2 separate regions of the Homo sapiens genome follow, and region 1 is linked to region 2. The links come from fine-mapping of genetic effects on gene expression. Tissue or cell type: whole blood. Region 2 holds a variant in brackets; the other region holds the start of a gene. All regions are shown on one strand. Distances are between the middles of the regions.

What was found. PIP is the estimated chance that this variant, and not a neighbour inherited with it, causes the effect.
Region 1: it holds the start of PTGER4, and the variant in region 2 is fine-mapped to the expression of PTGER4 in whole blood (INTERVAL, PIP above 0.99).

Annotation. Positions count from the first base shown.
Region 1 is chr5:40,674,942-40,683,039 of GRCh38, reverse strand. PTGER4 (prostaglandin E receptor 4) reads right to left here and starts at 3,125. Exons shown (of 3, transcript NM_000958.3): 1 at 2,562-3,125; 2 at 1,180-2,089. The coding sequence starts at 2,046. RefSeq lists an enhancer at 1,580-2,107 and a silencer at 3,243-3,462.
Region 2 is chr5:40,410,772-40,418,880 of GRCh38, reverse strand. No RefSeq gene overlaps it. Among named protein-coding and RNA genes, the nearest start is that of LINC00604, 170 kb to the right of the region's middle. The variant A/C (reference allele first, on the strand shown) is at 4,013.

The DNA.
Region 1 (8,098 bases), 260 kb before region 2:
ACTCTAGATAAAGTATTGCATTATTCTGCCCATCTGCTTCTGGTGCATTCCATTTTAGCCACAGGCAAAGTAGAAAACTAGGTAGGGTTTGAGCCTTTCTGTTTATCATATTTTAAAAGTTAATCCAAAGGCAATTCTTAAAAGATGAACTAAAAATGAAGTGTACCAAAACTCCAACCCACGCTTTACAAACGCCAAAATGAGAAATGTTCTACGAGGGAGACGTGATGTAATAACACATGAGCTGGGTCTGGCCTCAGACGGCCTAAGGTCCATTACAAGCTGTAGAGCTTTGGCTTGAAGAAACAAAGACAGCCATCTCTAAACCTCGGTTTCTCTAAAATGGTACTGTACCTCGCACAGTTGTCGAGAATTCAAATCCCATACCCTATGTATATCAGCCTGTCCATAATTAGTCACCCTGAGAAACTTTGCTTTCCTGGTCTAGACAGAATGAAAGAAACTGAGTCTGGACCCTGCCCTGTATATGAATTAGAATTTGTGTGCTTTAAGCTGCCCTCCCAGGGCACACCATGGTAAAGAGCAGGGAGCCTAGCTTGACTGTGTAGGTTCGGCTGGATTATTTTAAGCGTATCATTCACTCCCTCAGTGAAGTGAGGGAGTTAGACTAAAACACCTCTTGATATCTCTTCTAGCTTTAAAATTCTACGCAATCCACGGGGGAAGAAATTCAAGAAACCTTGCATACATCAAAACACCAAAAACCCCACTTTCCTTAAAAATGGTTTACAACGAACAGATCACCATCCCTGACATTTCAGGTTTTGCAGTTCACAGTTCACAGTACGGAGGAATGGGCTAAGTCACACTACAGCAGGCTCCCCTCCACGTCTAACAGAGGGGGCGGGGGGTTTTCTTGGAAGACTCGGCCAGTGTCAGGCAGCAAGGGGTAAGGGCTGTCTCGGTGGAGAAAGAAACCCAGGCTTCCGGGAACATAAACTGGGGGATGTAGGGGCAAAGCACCTGCTAAATCTCGTTAGGGTTGGGACTTCAAAGAGGGTTGGGCCTGCTCTGAGAAACAGTGTGGGAATCCCAGCCCCGACCTAAAGGCGACACGTTCACTGCCAAGGACTCAGAGGGAAAGCAGGGAGCGGGGAATGGACGCGGGAGGTGGATGCGAGAAAAAGGCCGAGTAGGGCCCCAGCCCCGGTCACTCACCACGAGCGGGATGGAGCAGATGAGCACCACCAGGGAGGTGGCAATGAGTAAGATGACCATCTGGATCTCGGCGCCCGCGATGCGGCGGAAGCTCCGGCGGCGCCGAAAGTCGCTGAGGCGCGGCAAGGCTGGGGAGGCAGCGGGGTGGCCCCGGGAGGCAACCGAGGCGGCCGCGGCCGCGTGGTGCTGCTCGGTGCCCAGCGAGGTGCGGCGCATGAACTGGCGGTGCATGCGGAGCAGCGCGCCGCACACAAGCACGTTGCAGAGGACGGTGGCGAGAATGAGGAAGGAGCTGAAGCCCGCGTACATGTAGGAGTAGGCGGCGTGCGCCGTCACGTTGGTGGTCCAGTCGATGAAGCACCAGGTGTCTGGGTACTGCAGCCGCGAGCTACCGAGACCCATGTTGGGCAGCGCGCAAAAGAGCACGTTGGACGCATAGACTGCAAAGAGCGTGAGGCCCGCCAATCGCTTGTCCACGTAGTGGCTGTAGAAATAGGCATGGTTGATGGCCAGGTAGCGCTCGACACTCATGGCGCAGATGATGCTGAGGCCGGACAGGCTGAAGAAGAGCAGAATGAAGGTGCTGTACTCGCACAGCGGCTGGCCCCCGGGCCATTGGCCCTTCATGTACGTGGCGATGGTCACCGGGCTCACCAACAAAGTGCCCAACAGGTCGGTGACAGCCAGCCCACATACCAGCGTGTAGAAGGTCGTCTCCTTCTGCTCCTTGCGCGACTTGCACAGCACCACGATGGCCACCAGGTTGCCCACCACCCCGAAGATGAACATCACCGCCGGGATGGTCACTGGGCTGTTCAGCCGGTCGGGGCTCAAGGAGGCGGACGAATTGACCCCGGGAGTGGACATGATAGTGGCTGGCGGTGCGCAGCCTTGGAGTGCAAGGCTGGGTCTGGGGATGGTAGAAGAGAGACAAAGCTGCCGTGAGCGGAAATTACCACTTGTAAGGTGTTAGACCCGCGCCCGAGAAACGATACACTGATAAGACAAGGGGAGCAACTCGATCCTACTTTCTGGATTGTAGCCACTTACCAACTGCGGCCACCAAAATCTCCAGGCTCGCGATACGTCCTGCCAACAGCACACTCTTGCTGACATTAATATTTATAAACTGATTTTCCCATTCCTCTTCCTCCCCACAATCCAACTCACTCCATTGCCAAGATGAATAAGACCCATCTCAAGGGAAAAGTAGCTCGCTAGTGCTATTCTCGATAGATTCTGAATCAATAAAATGCTCACTGAAAACAAGTTACAAAAGCAATTTGGAGAGCGCGCTCTTCCCTTCTTGGCTCTCTTCGGCGAGGGCCGCATCCCTGCGTTCTCTACCCGTTGACCCCAACGTCAGCCCAACGCCATCTCACCTGTAGCGGCAGCAGCGGTGGCAGCCTCACGAGCCCCCAGGGTCAGCCCTCAGATGTCCTGGACCCGCCTCCAACCTGCTTTCACCTTGTCCTGCTCAGTCTGGAAACTGCCAAATCTTCGGCTTCTCAAAGCCGGTCTCAGTGGCTGTCGATTTTTGGACACCGAGGTCAGAGTTGCCAGCTTTCAAAAACTTGGGAAACAAGAGGTGCAGCGGGATGGGTCAGTGAAGAATGGTGCTGGATTTCTTACTCGCTATTTTTTTTCCTTCAAAGACGAGTCCCAGCTTTGCAGTGCCCGCCGGTCTCGTCTGCGGGAGGACAGCGTTCAGGTGTGAGGCTGTGCGCGCAGGTGGCGCGGAGCCTTGGTCCCCAGCTCTGGCTGCCCTCCGCCCCAGCCACGGGCAGCACGGGCGGCTACTGGAGTTTGCGGCTGCCGCTGAGGCCGCTCCTGGCTACCTGGGGGCGGCTCGGGGTCCACTCTGCCAGAGGCTCTGGCCTGGGGCTGTTCATCTTCCTCTCGGGCTGCCGGGCTTGGAGCTCCGCTCTCGCCTTTCCACCCTCTGTACAAACTTTTCTCCTCCTCCAAGTTTCCCTGGCGGAGGCGGAGGCAAACCGCGCGCTGCCCGGGCGCCCATTGGCCGGATTGGAAGGGGGCGGAGCGCGTCCTCCCTGGGCGCCGCAGGGAAGACTGGCGGGGGGCGGTGTCTGGGCTGGGGCGGGGCTGGGCGCGCGGGGTGGGGCGGCTCCCGTGGTTTTCACGCCCTCGGAGGTGCGGAGTGGGAACTCGGAGGGGACCCTGGGAAGCCCCGGTGCTTTCCCCGGCGACCGCTTAGCCGCTCCTGAACTCGGCTTCCAGTGGGGCCACCACTGAAACCGGCGACCGTTTCCGCCTCGCTGCCTGCCGCTCGGAGTGTACTATTTCTTGAACCTCCTGTCCGCGGGCCGCAACATCTAGATCGTGGAAGAGAGGGCAGTTGTTTTAGGATTCTACCTAGGGTTGGCCGAGAAAGGAGAAGAAATACGGTGTCTGCGCTAGCGCGTGCGCCCCGGGGTTAGACTTGGGTGCGCCCAGCGGACGTGGTAGGTGGGTGGGTGGGTGGGTACCAGATTGGGCGGGGAAATAACGAAGAATCCATCCTCTCACCATAAAAGGAGTTGGAGTCAGTTGGCAGTGCCCAGACTGCGGGCTGCGCTTGGTCGGGCACCCCAGGCAAAAAAGAAAAAAAAAAAAGAGAAAGAAAGAGGAGGAGACAGTGATTGCAGCCTCTCCCGGCGCAGGTGGCAGAGCCTTGCGGCTTTGGAGAGAGGTGGAGCCTTGGTGAGGTTGGGAGGACTGCCTAACTGCGATCTTTTTCTCCATTCTTCCTCCTGGGAACTTCTCCGCCCTGAAAGGGTAGCGTGAGCTTCATGCCTTCGGCCGGCCGTGTTATACTCGTTAGACCCAATTCACCATGAATCCTTTGAAAGACTAGTGGAGAGTGAGAAGGGGGTTTCAAAGTCACTGGAGTAAAGGAATTCTCCAAGCACCACCTCATGATTAATTCTTGGAAAAGCCTGTTTGCGCGGCCCTTAGAATCATTTTGACTTCTTGTCTAATGGTGAAGTTTTTCTCTGTAATCCTTCTACTCTGTTTTCTAAAACCAGAACTAAAAACCTAAAAAATTGTAAAACTTCATGGTGTAATTAAAACCCCTTCACCATTTTTTTTAAGTAAGATTGTGTGGCCTTATTGCACAATTTAAATTCCTGGAAAAACCTCTTCCCATCTGCAGTGTACAAGCATTCTAACATATTATGTCTCCTCACAGGGTAAGTAAATAACTGGATTCTTTTATGTGATAAGCAGGTACCCATTTCTTAAATGTTATTTCGTGAACGAACAAACCTCCTAACTGGTTCTTCAGTTAGTCTCAGCAACACATGGGTAATAAGAGAAACTAAAAGGGCTTTCCGATTTCAAGTAATTACAGGTCATAAAATATCCAGAATCATATTTACTTGCAAAAGGCACTATATGGATATACTAATAAAGAATTATTCTGTTTATACTATTTACTTAATAATATGAGAAAGAAAAATACACATTTGTTAGCCAATATTAAGATTGATGGTGATTGGTCATTTTCTTAAAAATCTTCTTTTAATCAGTACTCTAATCACTTCTGTTGTCGATGCTTCCTTTGAACAGTAACCTCTAGGATTGTGTCAGCACAGAAAACAAATCAACATTAGAAAAAAGGAAACTGCACACTCTGCGCCATTCCTCACTAACCACATTGCTTTGCTATCACTCATGTCAGTTGCTTGTCAGTAAATATATGGAGGGGAGGTTGGGAAGTCCCTTATATTCACTTTCTGCTAATACAAATTTTTTTTTTCAATTTTCTTTCCATATGAAGCTTGTAAAAGAGAAAACAATTGGTTGCTATTTATTAATTTAAGAATGATGAAGAATATATTAAATATAAAAACTGAGACACACTGCTGAGATAATTAGTAACTGTTACAGGTATTAGCATGTCATTGACAAACCAGACTTGTTATCAATTGAGCTATTTTTCTTACTAGTCCTTTGAATTTTCTTTCTACAGTAGCTTTAGGAAGAAGGAAAATAAATAACCTAATGCTCAATACTAAAAAATTGTAATGAGGTTTATCTGTAGTCTCTTTTGTTGTACGATTCTTAAAACTTAAATTTAGCTTTCAAAAGTAGAAGTTGAAAGTTTAGGTAGCAAATTATTTTATTTTCTTAGTTTGAAAAACTGGGACAGTGGAGCTCAGTTTCTCTTACACTCTGCCAGGAATTTGCATTGCAAAAGGAAAGGAAAAATTGCCATAATTATGTGGGCAATTCTTGTCATTTTTTTTCAATGAAAAGATTTTTATTCTAAGCACTTTAAAAATTCTCCCTCGCAGTTTCTGCCACAATCCCTACTTCTCTATGCTGGAAGACCCCAGTTCAGTTATTTAAAACTGTCATTAAATAACTCTCTGAAGGTTTGAACTACTCCAAGAACTGTTTGATCAGTTTGATTGCTCTGTTATAGCTAATTATTTGACGAGTTTTTTGAGTAAACATATTAAGGTGGGAACCCATTTATAAACAAAGGCCGCTTGGGAGCTAGTAACCACTTTTAGTTTTCCTTGGATCAAAGGAAATATGGGACAGACAGGACCTGGGCTCAGCCAGCAGGAGTGGGGTGAGAAAGGGGATCATTTCCAGGAGGAAGGCAGCAGGATGAGTCAGATCTGGCCTGGACCCCTTCCTGAGCCGCAGCTGGCAGGATCTTAGAGCATTCCTGAAGCACTAATATTCATGTAGCAAAGCCTGTGCAAATTGTGTTTGCTTTTCTCTTTCATGACAGGCCATGCAGAGACTCAAAACAGTGTGAAAGGCATCTATCAGGTACAAATAGCAAAGTACCCTTGGACACATTTGCCCTCCACAGGCTCTTCCAGTTGGTTTAGTGGATTACAAACATGGCATTCACCTGACCCTAAGATGACTGCCTTCCCTTTTTAGTGGTACATTTCAAATGTGTGCCCTCTTAATTATTTTCATTTTCTAAGCATGAAGTTTATGCTGAGCCCAATGCCTGGAGCTGACACATGTCAGTGCTGTGATTAACTCCCCAACATCTTCATGTGGTGATAAATTACTGCTGTGGAGGCTGGCCCCTACTGAGTGATTGCTTCAGGCTGCTCTGACAGCCTGCTCTGACAATTACACTCCTCAAAGTAATAGCTTTCTGCTCTTTTATTCTGCTCGCTCCCTTTTTTTCCCTCCAGTTTCACCACACGCCCATGTGGATTGGACCAATGGGCAAAGAAAGGAGATTATTTACCTGCAGTGGCCTTTTTTTTTTTTTTTTTTGAGACAGATTCTCGCTCTGTCGCCCAGGCTGGAGTGCAGTGGTGCAACTTGGCTCACTGCAACCTCCGCCTCCTGGATTCAAGCAATTCTCCTGTCTCAGCCTCCCTAGTAGCTGAGATTACAGGCATGTGCCACCTTGCCTGGCTAATTTTGTATTTTTAGTAGAGATGGGGTTTCACCATATTGGCCAGGCTGGTCTCGAACTCCTGACCTTGTGATCCACCCCCTTCGGCTTCCCAAAGTGCTGGGATTACAGGCGTGAGTCACCGCTCCCAGAGTGGCCCATTTTTGAAGATACAAGTGGAGAAATAAAGCCTTACTAGTTAAAGAGTCTCCCCTACAGGAGGAAGGACCTTCTGATTATATTTCGGTTTCTTCTCATACCCAAATTGCTGTATGTTTTAGCAATGTGGAGGATGCACAGAAACTCCCTGGCTTAATCAATAGCAGCAGCATCACCTGTAGCTCATGTTAGTTTATCACTTTCCATAGCAGTTTCACACTTGGCGTTCACATGCGCTTTTATTAGCAACCCTCTGAGGAGGTTAGGTAGGTGTGACAGAGTCTGCTGTGTTGCACCAAATCTTGTTTCCATTTCCTCTGGAACACATAGCTGCGTATTATTTCCCAAACTGACTTCTTGTGGTTAGGTGCAGCTCATGTGACTGAATTCTGGCCAATGGAATAGAGGTAGAATTGATATATGCCACTTCCAGGCTGGGTCCCTATAAAACCCAGTCCTTTGTGCTATTGTTCGTCCTCTGCCAACATAATACAGGTCCCGGGTATATGGCAGAGCCACTAGATAGAAGGTGACTTGGCCTCTGAGTGCCTGTATGGACCTCATTCCAATCCCAGCAACCCTCACTGGACAATGAAGTGAATGAGAAATAATGCACTGAGATTTGAGGGGTCCCTTGTTTCAGCAGTTAGCCTATGCTGACTAATTTAGTATGGTTGATGTAATCTTCCTTCAGTGAGTGAGAATGTGGGCACAGAGATTCTATGTGGCTTGCTGAGAGTCACAAGAATTAGTAAGAATAGCTGAAATTTATCCAATGCTCAGCCTATGTGAGACATCATGCTAACTGCAACATGCATACGCTGTCAAATTCTCACAGCAAACCTATGAGGAAGGTACTAGGCAGTCAGATGCCCATTTCACAGATGAGCAAATCAAAGTTTGGTTAACGAATGCTGGGAGTGTTTTTTTTTTTCTTTTTTTTTGTGGCAGGGTCCCAATCTGTCCCCCAGACTGGAGTGCAGTGGGGCGATCTTGGCTCACTGCAACCTCCACCTCCTGGGGTCCAGTGAACCTCAGCTTCCCAAGTAAGCCGGGACTACAGGCAGGTGCCACTATGCCTGGCTAATTTTTGTATTTTTTTGTGGAGATGGAGTTACCCCATGTTGCTCAGGCTGGTCTCGAACTCCTGGGCTCAGGCGATCCACAAGCCTCCACCTCACAAAGCGATGGGATTACAGGGGTTAGCCACCACACCCAGCCCAGGTGTTGTCAGTTTTGAAAGGCTGCCCAGCAGCTGAACTCCTTTTCTATTAGTAAGAATCCTCCATTGCATAATATTATTTGGAGGCAAGACCTAGCCTGCCATGAGAGAAGCTAAATGGGCTGGATTTTCTCCTTCCATCCTCTGCCACGGCTTGA
Region 2 (8,109 bases):
CTCATAGAAATAAAGGAGGACACAAACAAATGGAAGATCATTCCATGCTAATGGATAGGAAGAATCAGTATCATGAAAATAGCCATACCTCCCAAGGTAATTTATAGATTCAATGCCGTCCCCATCAAGCTACTGATGACTTTCTTCACAGAATTGGAAAAAGCTACTTTAAAGTTCATATGGAACCAAAAAAGAGCCTGGATTGCCAAGACAATCCTAAGCAAAAAGAACAAAGCTGGAGACTTCACACTACCTGACTTCAAACTATACTACAAGGCTACAGTAACCAAAACAGCATGGTACTGGTACCAAAGCAGATATATAGACAATGGAAGAGAACAGAGGCCTCAGAAATAACACCATGCATCTACAACAATCTGATCTTTGACAAACCTGACAAAAACAAGAAATGGGGAAAGGATTTTCTATTTAATAAATGGTTCTGGGAAACTTGCTAGGCATATGTAGAGAGCTGAAACTAGATCCCTTCTTTATACCTTACACAAAAATTAATTCAAGATGGATTAAAGACTTAAATGTTAGACCTAAAACCATAAAAACCCTAGAAGAAAACCTAGGTAATACCAGTCAGGTCATAGGCATGGGAAGGACTTCATGACTAAAACACCAAAAGCAATGGCAACAAAAGCCAAAATGGTAACCTAATTATACTAAAGAGCTTCTGCCAGAAAAAGAAGCTACCGTCAGAGTGAACAGGAAACCTACAGAATGGGAGTAAATTTCTGCAATCTACCCATCTGACAAAGGGCTAATATTCAGAATCTACAAATAACTTAAACAAATTTACAAGAAAAAAACAAACAACCCCATCAAAAAGTGGGCAAAGCATATGAACAGACACTTCTCCAAAGAAGACATTTATGCAGCCAAAAGACACATGAAAAAATGCTCATCATCACTGGCCATCAGAGAAATGTAAATCAAAACCACAGTGAGATACCATCTCACACCAGTTAGAATGGCAATCATTAAAAAGTCAGGAAACAACAGATGCTGGAGAGGATGTGGAGAAATAGGAATGTTCTTACACTGTTGATGGGAGTGTAAACTAGTTCAACCATTGTGGAAGACAGTGTGGTGATTCCTCAAGGATCTAGAACTAGAAATACCAAATTGACCCGGTGATCCCATTACTGGGTATATACCCAAAGGATTATAAATCATGCTACTATAAAGACACATGCACACGTATGTTTATTGTGGTTGGAACCAACCCAAATGTCCATCAATGGTAGACTGGATTAAGAAAATGTGGCACATATACACCATGGAATACTATGCAGCCATAAAAAAGGATGAGTTCATGTTCTTTGCAGGGACATAGATGAAGCTGGAAACTATCATTCTCAGCAAACTATCACAAGACAGAAAACCAAACACCGCTTGTTCTCACTCATAGGTGGGAATTGAACAATGAGAACAGCTGGACACAGAGCGGTGAACATCACACACTGGGGCCATTTGGGGGATGAGGGGCTGGGGGAGGGATAGCATTAGGAGAAATGCACAATGTAAATGACGAGTTAATGGGTGCAGCAAACCAACTTGGCACACGTGTACCTATGTAACAAACCTGCATGTTGTGCACGTGCACCCTAGAACGTAAAGTATAATTAAAAATAAATTAAAGATGAATCAGGCTGCACTTTGGTCCACTTCCTTGTAACTAAAAGTCACATATTGACCATTTGCATCCCCATTGTTCCTACAGGATGGATTTCTGAGGTTAAAATTATAAGGCATTTGTTTAAGAATTAAGATGTTTTTCTGGTGACAAATTCCAGCAGAACAGTAAATGCTAACCAGTGAAGACCCCCACAGAGGAACTGATCCTGGTGGTCTCCATCATCTGGAGAATGCAATTTCTTCATCTCTCTGTCCCTTGACTTCACCCTGCATTCTGATTCATCAATGATTGCCACCCTTTGGTTCAACCCAAAACCTTTAAAATCCTTGGCCCTAAACTCCCTGGGGTGACATGTTTGAAGTTTCCTCCTCTTTCCTTGTTTGGTAGCCCTATGATTAAACCTCTTTCTCTGCTCTACCTGGTGTCTCAGTGTATTGACTTGCTGTGAACATTGGCAGTAAATGCTTTATGGTTACAAAGGTTCCTATGAAACAGCAAAATGTGAAAGAAAGAACACAGTTGGAGTCAGGCTGCTTTAGTTTGAATCCTGGTTCTGCCACTTACATATCCTTAGAGGTTATTGAGTCTCTCTGAAGTGTATTTTCATTTGAAGACCATGACTAAATACTTAGTTGTATTAGTTTCCTAAGGATGCCATCACACATTATCACCAACTGGGTGGCTTAAAATGACAGAAATGTATTCTTTCATAGTTCTGGGGGCTAGAAGTCTAAAATCAAACAGTCAGCAGGACCCTGCTCCTTTTGAAGGCTCTAGAGAAAGATCCTTTCCTGCCTCTTTCTAGTTTCTGGTAGTTGCCAGCAGTTCTTGAGGTTCCTAGGTTTATAGCTGCACCAGTCCACTCTCTAACTCTATTATTACATGATCTTCTTTGTGTGTGTCTTCACATGGCCTTTTATAAGGACATTAGTCATTGGATTTATGGTCCACTCTAATCTAATGTGGTCACATCTTAACTAATTACATCCACAAAGACTCTATTTCCAAATAGGTTCACATTCTGAGGTTCTGGATAGACATGTAATCTTAAGAGGATACTATTTAACCCAGTATACTAGCATACAGGACTATTGCAAGGATTAAATAATATAATGTGAATTATCTAGCATAGTTGCTGGCACACAGTAGGCGTTCAACAATTATGAGTTCTCATTCTTATTCTCCAGTCCCAGCCCTGTGACCTCCCCTGTAGAGCTCTTCCCTACCCTGAACCCATTCTGTTTTCACTCAGTTGGCCTTTTCCTTTTTCTGCATTATGTCCCAGTCTCAGGCGTTCTTCCCTGGCTGGTTGCAATTGTTTTGTGCATCAGTTCTTCCCTGGTTCCAGCTTTCAAGAAGCTTTACAATAAATGTGCTTTGGGAACAAAATAACAAAGTACTGAAGATTACTGTAGCAGCAAAGGGACTTCACTTAATTAGCAAAAACGACAAAGTATTTCCAATTTTGACAAGGAAGATGAAAAAAAAGTGAATGTTATTACCTCTGTTAGGGTTCTATAAACTGGTGTAAGCTTTTCCAAAAAAATCAACAAAAGTATTCTGCTTTTGCCTTATTAATCCCAGAACTGGGAATCTGTGCGAAGATAATAACCCCAAATATAGAAAACACCACAAATACTCATCAAAATATAATTGGTAATTATCAAAACATAATTTATAATAGTAAAACATTGGAAGCAAGATAAATGCCTAAAAATAGGGGAAATTTAGGTAAACTATGCTTTGCTTATTTGAAGGAACATTATACTGTTATTTTTAAAATGTAGCTATGAAAAATAGCTATATATATTGTTAAGTGAAAAAGGAGAATAATAACTAAAAATGTATTTGTAATTGTAAAAAGCACATGAAGTAATGTCACAATGTTTAAAAACATTTCCATGTTATGAATTTTCTACCACTTAAAAATATTTCTTTATAGTTTTAAATAGGAAACTCATAATGTAAAAGAGATAATTCACAGACTCAGGCATCTTAATGCGAATGATAAGTGCTATAGATAGTCCTGCTCACCTGTTTGGCGGTGGATAGAGGCTGAGATGCTTGCAGCACTGCTGTTGGCATTGAGTGGAAGCAAACATCATTTCTCAAACAGACTTGAACAAACACATATCGTGGGAGGAGTAGCAAGTCAGATGATTCCTACCTGCATTGCCAGTGAACTAGACTCTTGAGTTATGGGGCCAAAAACAAACCCCTGAGCATACACAGACCGTGGCCTCCATGAAGAAGAACTCATGCAGATGGTAACTAATTTTTGAGTGATACTACCTGTGTCAGGAAAAATCCATAAAATCAAAACAAAGATAATACCACCACCACCACCACCACCACCACCACCAC[A/C]ACAACAACAACAAGAAATTTCAAACTTTGTTGACTTATTTTACATTCCATTCATTTCTGTTTTTGGAGAATAAATAATATGCTTCCCGCCCCCTTCCCCCACCCACCTTGACAAGTAAGAGAAAATGAAGGGCAGGTATCAGTGGGATATATAGGTTTTAAGATAAATCTGTGTTGCTTAGGCCTATGAGTACAAGTTTAATAGAGATGATGTAGACTTAATGATTTATTTTTCTGTCAAGTCAAAGAATTCATAGCTCATCGTCTGAATTTTATTTCCTCATGTGTTGATTAATTAGTTTATTCATTTATTTGGCAAATATTAATTGATTCTTATAAAGTTTTAGTCATGATTTTTTGTGAAGTGGGATATCCCATGAATGAGTTTGCTAGATTTCTGTTTATTGAGTTTAGGTAAAGAGAAATTTTTATTGAGTTTAGATAAAACATTAAGATAATTAAAAAATACTTCAAAAATAAGAAAAAATACATCATTAAATTTAAATTCCATTATATATTCTCAAAGAAGTGGTTCTCAAAATTAAATGTGCGCAAGGATCACCTGACAAGCTTGCTAAAAATGTGGGTTTCTAGGCCCTAATATGAGAGGCTTAGGGTAAGGTTGGAGATACTTGTTTGAAAGAAAGAAAAGAAGATTCTGATGTAGATACTCTACTATTCACACTTTGGGGGAAAAATATAGCCACATGAACACATATGTGCCATAAAACATTTTCATTAAATATTTGGAGTTGAACACTAATTTATCACTACGAAAATAAAACAACCAATAAGATGAAGAAAGTACTAAAAAATATTTGATGTTGCCTCCCAAAACATAGTTTTGCTTTTCCTTTTTTGGAAATCTGTAAGGAAAACTCATCACCAAGCTGTAGATGATGTCAACCCTTCTATTCCTGGCACATTTTTGACACGTAATCCCTTTATTTCACAATATACATGCTGAGGCAATGTTCTTTTCGTTTTATGAGCTGATAATTGTATGTCAATTATATCACAAGTTAAAGGAAAGTTAATAAGGATTGCATTCAGTTACAAGTAGCATTTTCAATATTATTATCATACGTGGGTTCTTTTCAAATACTCCAATATTAGAATCTAGATTTTGATAATGGAAGGTCCATTGTGAAAACCACATATAATTGTGTTGCAAAGACTGCATTATAAAACTCACTTGTTCTATATCCATATGTGTATATATTTTACATGTATATACACAGACACACATACAGTTGTGTCTGTGCTATGAGAAGATAATAAATGCACTTCTCTTTTAGTGAATCACTTTTTTTTACTATGCCAGGCCTTCCTATTTCTCTTTCTTGAGAAAGTAAATGGCTGATTTGCTTTAAACATCTTATGAGAGAATGATGTACAAATCTGCTAAACCTGGCCTTTTTTTTTAGTTGTTTTTACCTGCCAAACTATCTAGTATAATAAAATTAGGGTAGGCTTTAAACTAAAGATATGTTAAGGCAATGATTCTTAACCTTTGTATGCATAACAATCACATGCTATATGTAATATGTTTGTTAATATTCAGACTTGTGGGCCTCCGTTAAATCTTCAGTAAAGCCCAATAGTTTACATTTTAATGAATACTCCACGTACTTTTGAAGCTAATATTCTGCCTTTTACATTTTGAGGAATTACTTCTCAAAAGGAAGTTTGTAAAATAGCTTATGGGAGTTAATTTTGAGTGACCTATGCTTTAAAACCACTGGAGGAACTTACTTTAACCTTAATCAAGGGGCACTTAGAAGTATAAAAGAAGCATTGCAAAGTTTTCCAAACATGGATTTTACATTTGGATGGCCACTGGAAACAAGTACATCATTTTATTTCCTTTTGGAAAGTGTGTGTTGGAAAGTCAGACCTTTGGCAAGAACAGATGCTATCAGGATATGCAAAATCATGATGATGGGAGAACCAAAGACATGACAAAGTATGACGGTGATCAAAGAGACTTGCTCTGTGCCAGGTACTGCTCTAAGCTTCTTATATGAATTAACTTATTTCATCTTACAACTACCCTATGTAGTAGATATTATTACCTTTCCCATTTTACACATGGGAAAATAGAGAAGTAAGGTGTTAAATAACTTGTCTCCTCCTATAGCTTGTGAGAAATAGCCAGGATTGTCTGGACCTGAGCAGTCTGATCTTCTCAGAGCAGAAGGCCCTGGGGTCTAGACCTTCACCCTGCACTATATCACTAGTAAAGGGCTGGTTTTCTGGAAAACTCATTTATGCTTTTGCTAAACAAAGAGATTTTCATATTAAGACAAGTTCTTATGGAGGCAAAGCCATGAACTTCATGCCACTTAGAGCTTGTTTTTTTTGTTTGTTTGTTTTTGTTTTTGTTTTAATTATGTTTTAGAGATCAGGTCTTGCTATGTTGCCTAGGCTGGACTCAAATTCTCGGGCTCAAACAATCCTCCCACCTCAGCCTCCCAAGTCCCAAGTAGCTGGGACTGCAGGTGTGCAACACTGCATCCAGCTTTTCTTGATCTGTAATTCTTTAAATTTCTAGGGAAGACCAACATGAAAGAAAAATGTAAGCAATGGCAGTGCAGATGTGGTCTGGTGTCAATCTCCAGGGTACAATGGAGAGACTTGGAACCACATGCCCAGATGGAATGAGCTGTGCACCTGGGCCTCAATGGAGAGTCTTTGATAAATGGAAGGTGGCTTCCCAAGCAGTATGGACTTGCCTTGAACCAATGGTTTTTGTATTAGTTTTTAATTGCTACTATAACAATTACCACAAACTTAGTAGCTAAAGCAACACAAATTTATAGTCTTACAGTTCTGCAGGTAGGAAGTCTGATACAGGTCTTACTGGGCTAAACTCAAAGCATCAGCAGGGCTGTGTACATTTCTGGAAGCTCTAGGGGAGAATCCTCTTCTTTGCTTTTTCCAACTTTTAGAGGCTGCCCACATTCCTTTCCTCATGGTCCCCTTTCTCCATCTTCAAAGCCAGCAATGGCTGGTTGAGTTCTGTTCACATGGTATCACTTTGATCTTCTCTTCTGTCTTTCTCTTCCACTTTTAAGAACCCTTGTGATTATGTTGTGCCCACTCAGATAATGGAGGATGATCTCTCTATTCTAAAGTCAGCTTATTAGAAACCTCAATTCCATCTTGGTTCCCTTTTTCCATGTAACCCAACATATTCATAGGTTCCAGGGAGTAGGATATGAATATAAGTATTTTGGGGAGTCTTTACTTGCCTACCACAGTTTCCTAAAGAGTAAGGTGACTGGGGAAAAGAGGCATGTTTCAGCACATAGGGCTTATTCATTGAAGACTGGATGTTTGACTTGGAAGGAAAGCTTCCTTCCACTTGGCCAGTGAGATGCCTTTGGCAGTCACGCACACTGGCAGAGCACTAGTAGTGGAAGAGCTGTTAGCTGGCTAGCAGATAGGAGGGGAAGAGGCTGTGTCATACCTGGAAAGCCTGAAGTATCCTTGTTGCCTGAGGACAACTTGATTAAGCTGTTTCTAATGTTTGTAGAGAAGGAAGGTACTAAAGGTTTTTCCCTTAGCGAGGGAAAAGCCAAGCTGCTCCTCAGGTCAGGCATGGAGGGATGAGTGGAGAGGACCTCCTGTAGAGTTGGAATCTCAGTTAAAAGAGGTGGAAATATGAGCCAAATATATCTTTGATTGAAACAGAAACTCCCTTTCTTTCCTTTTCCCTTCCCCACCCTCACTTCCTTCCTTCTAGCTGCCAAATTTGTGCTGTTGCTGTGGTTTGGGAAGCTATGATTACATAAGCACTGCTCTTGTCTAAACAGGCTGTGTCCATAGTGTGAAAGCTAGGCTCATTCATATAGAAAACAACACTAAAGATAACAGCAAAACTTGACATCCACATTCGAAATTTTAAACTTATATTCTTTTAATGAGAGCGAAAGCAGTAATTAAAAAGGGCATGATTGGGGAGTGGGGGAGGTGTACAAAATTTACTTTAAAAATGGTACTGTTGACTGTTGGAGGCTTCTGATTTTTTTACGTTAAGCAAAATGGAAATAGTTGATTGAGACCCTAGAGAAGAATCATGTGATCTGAGTGAA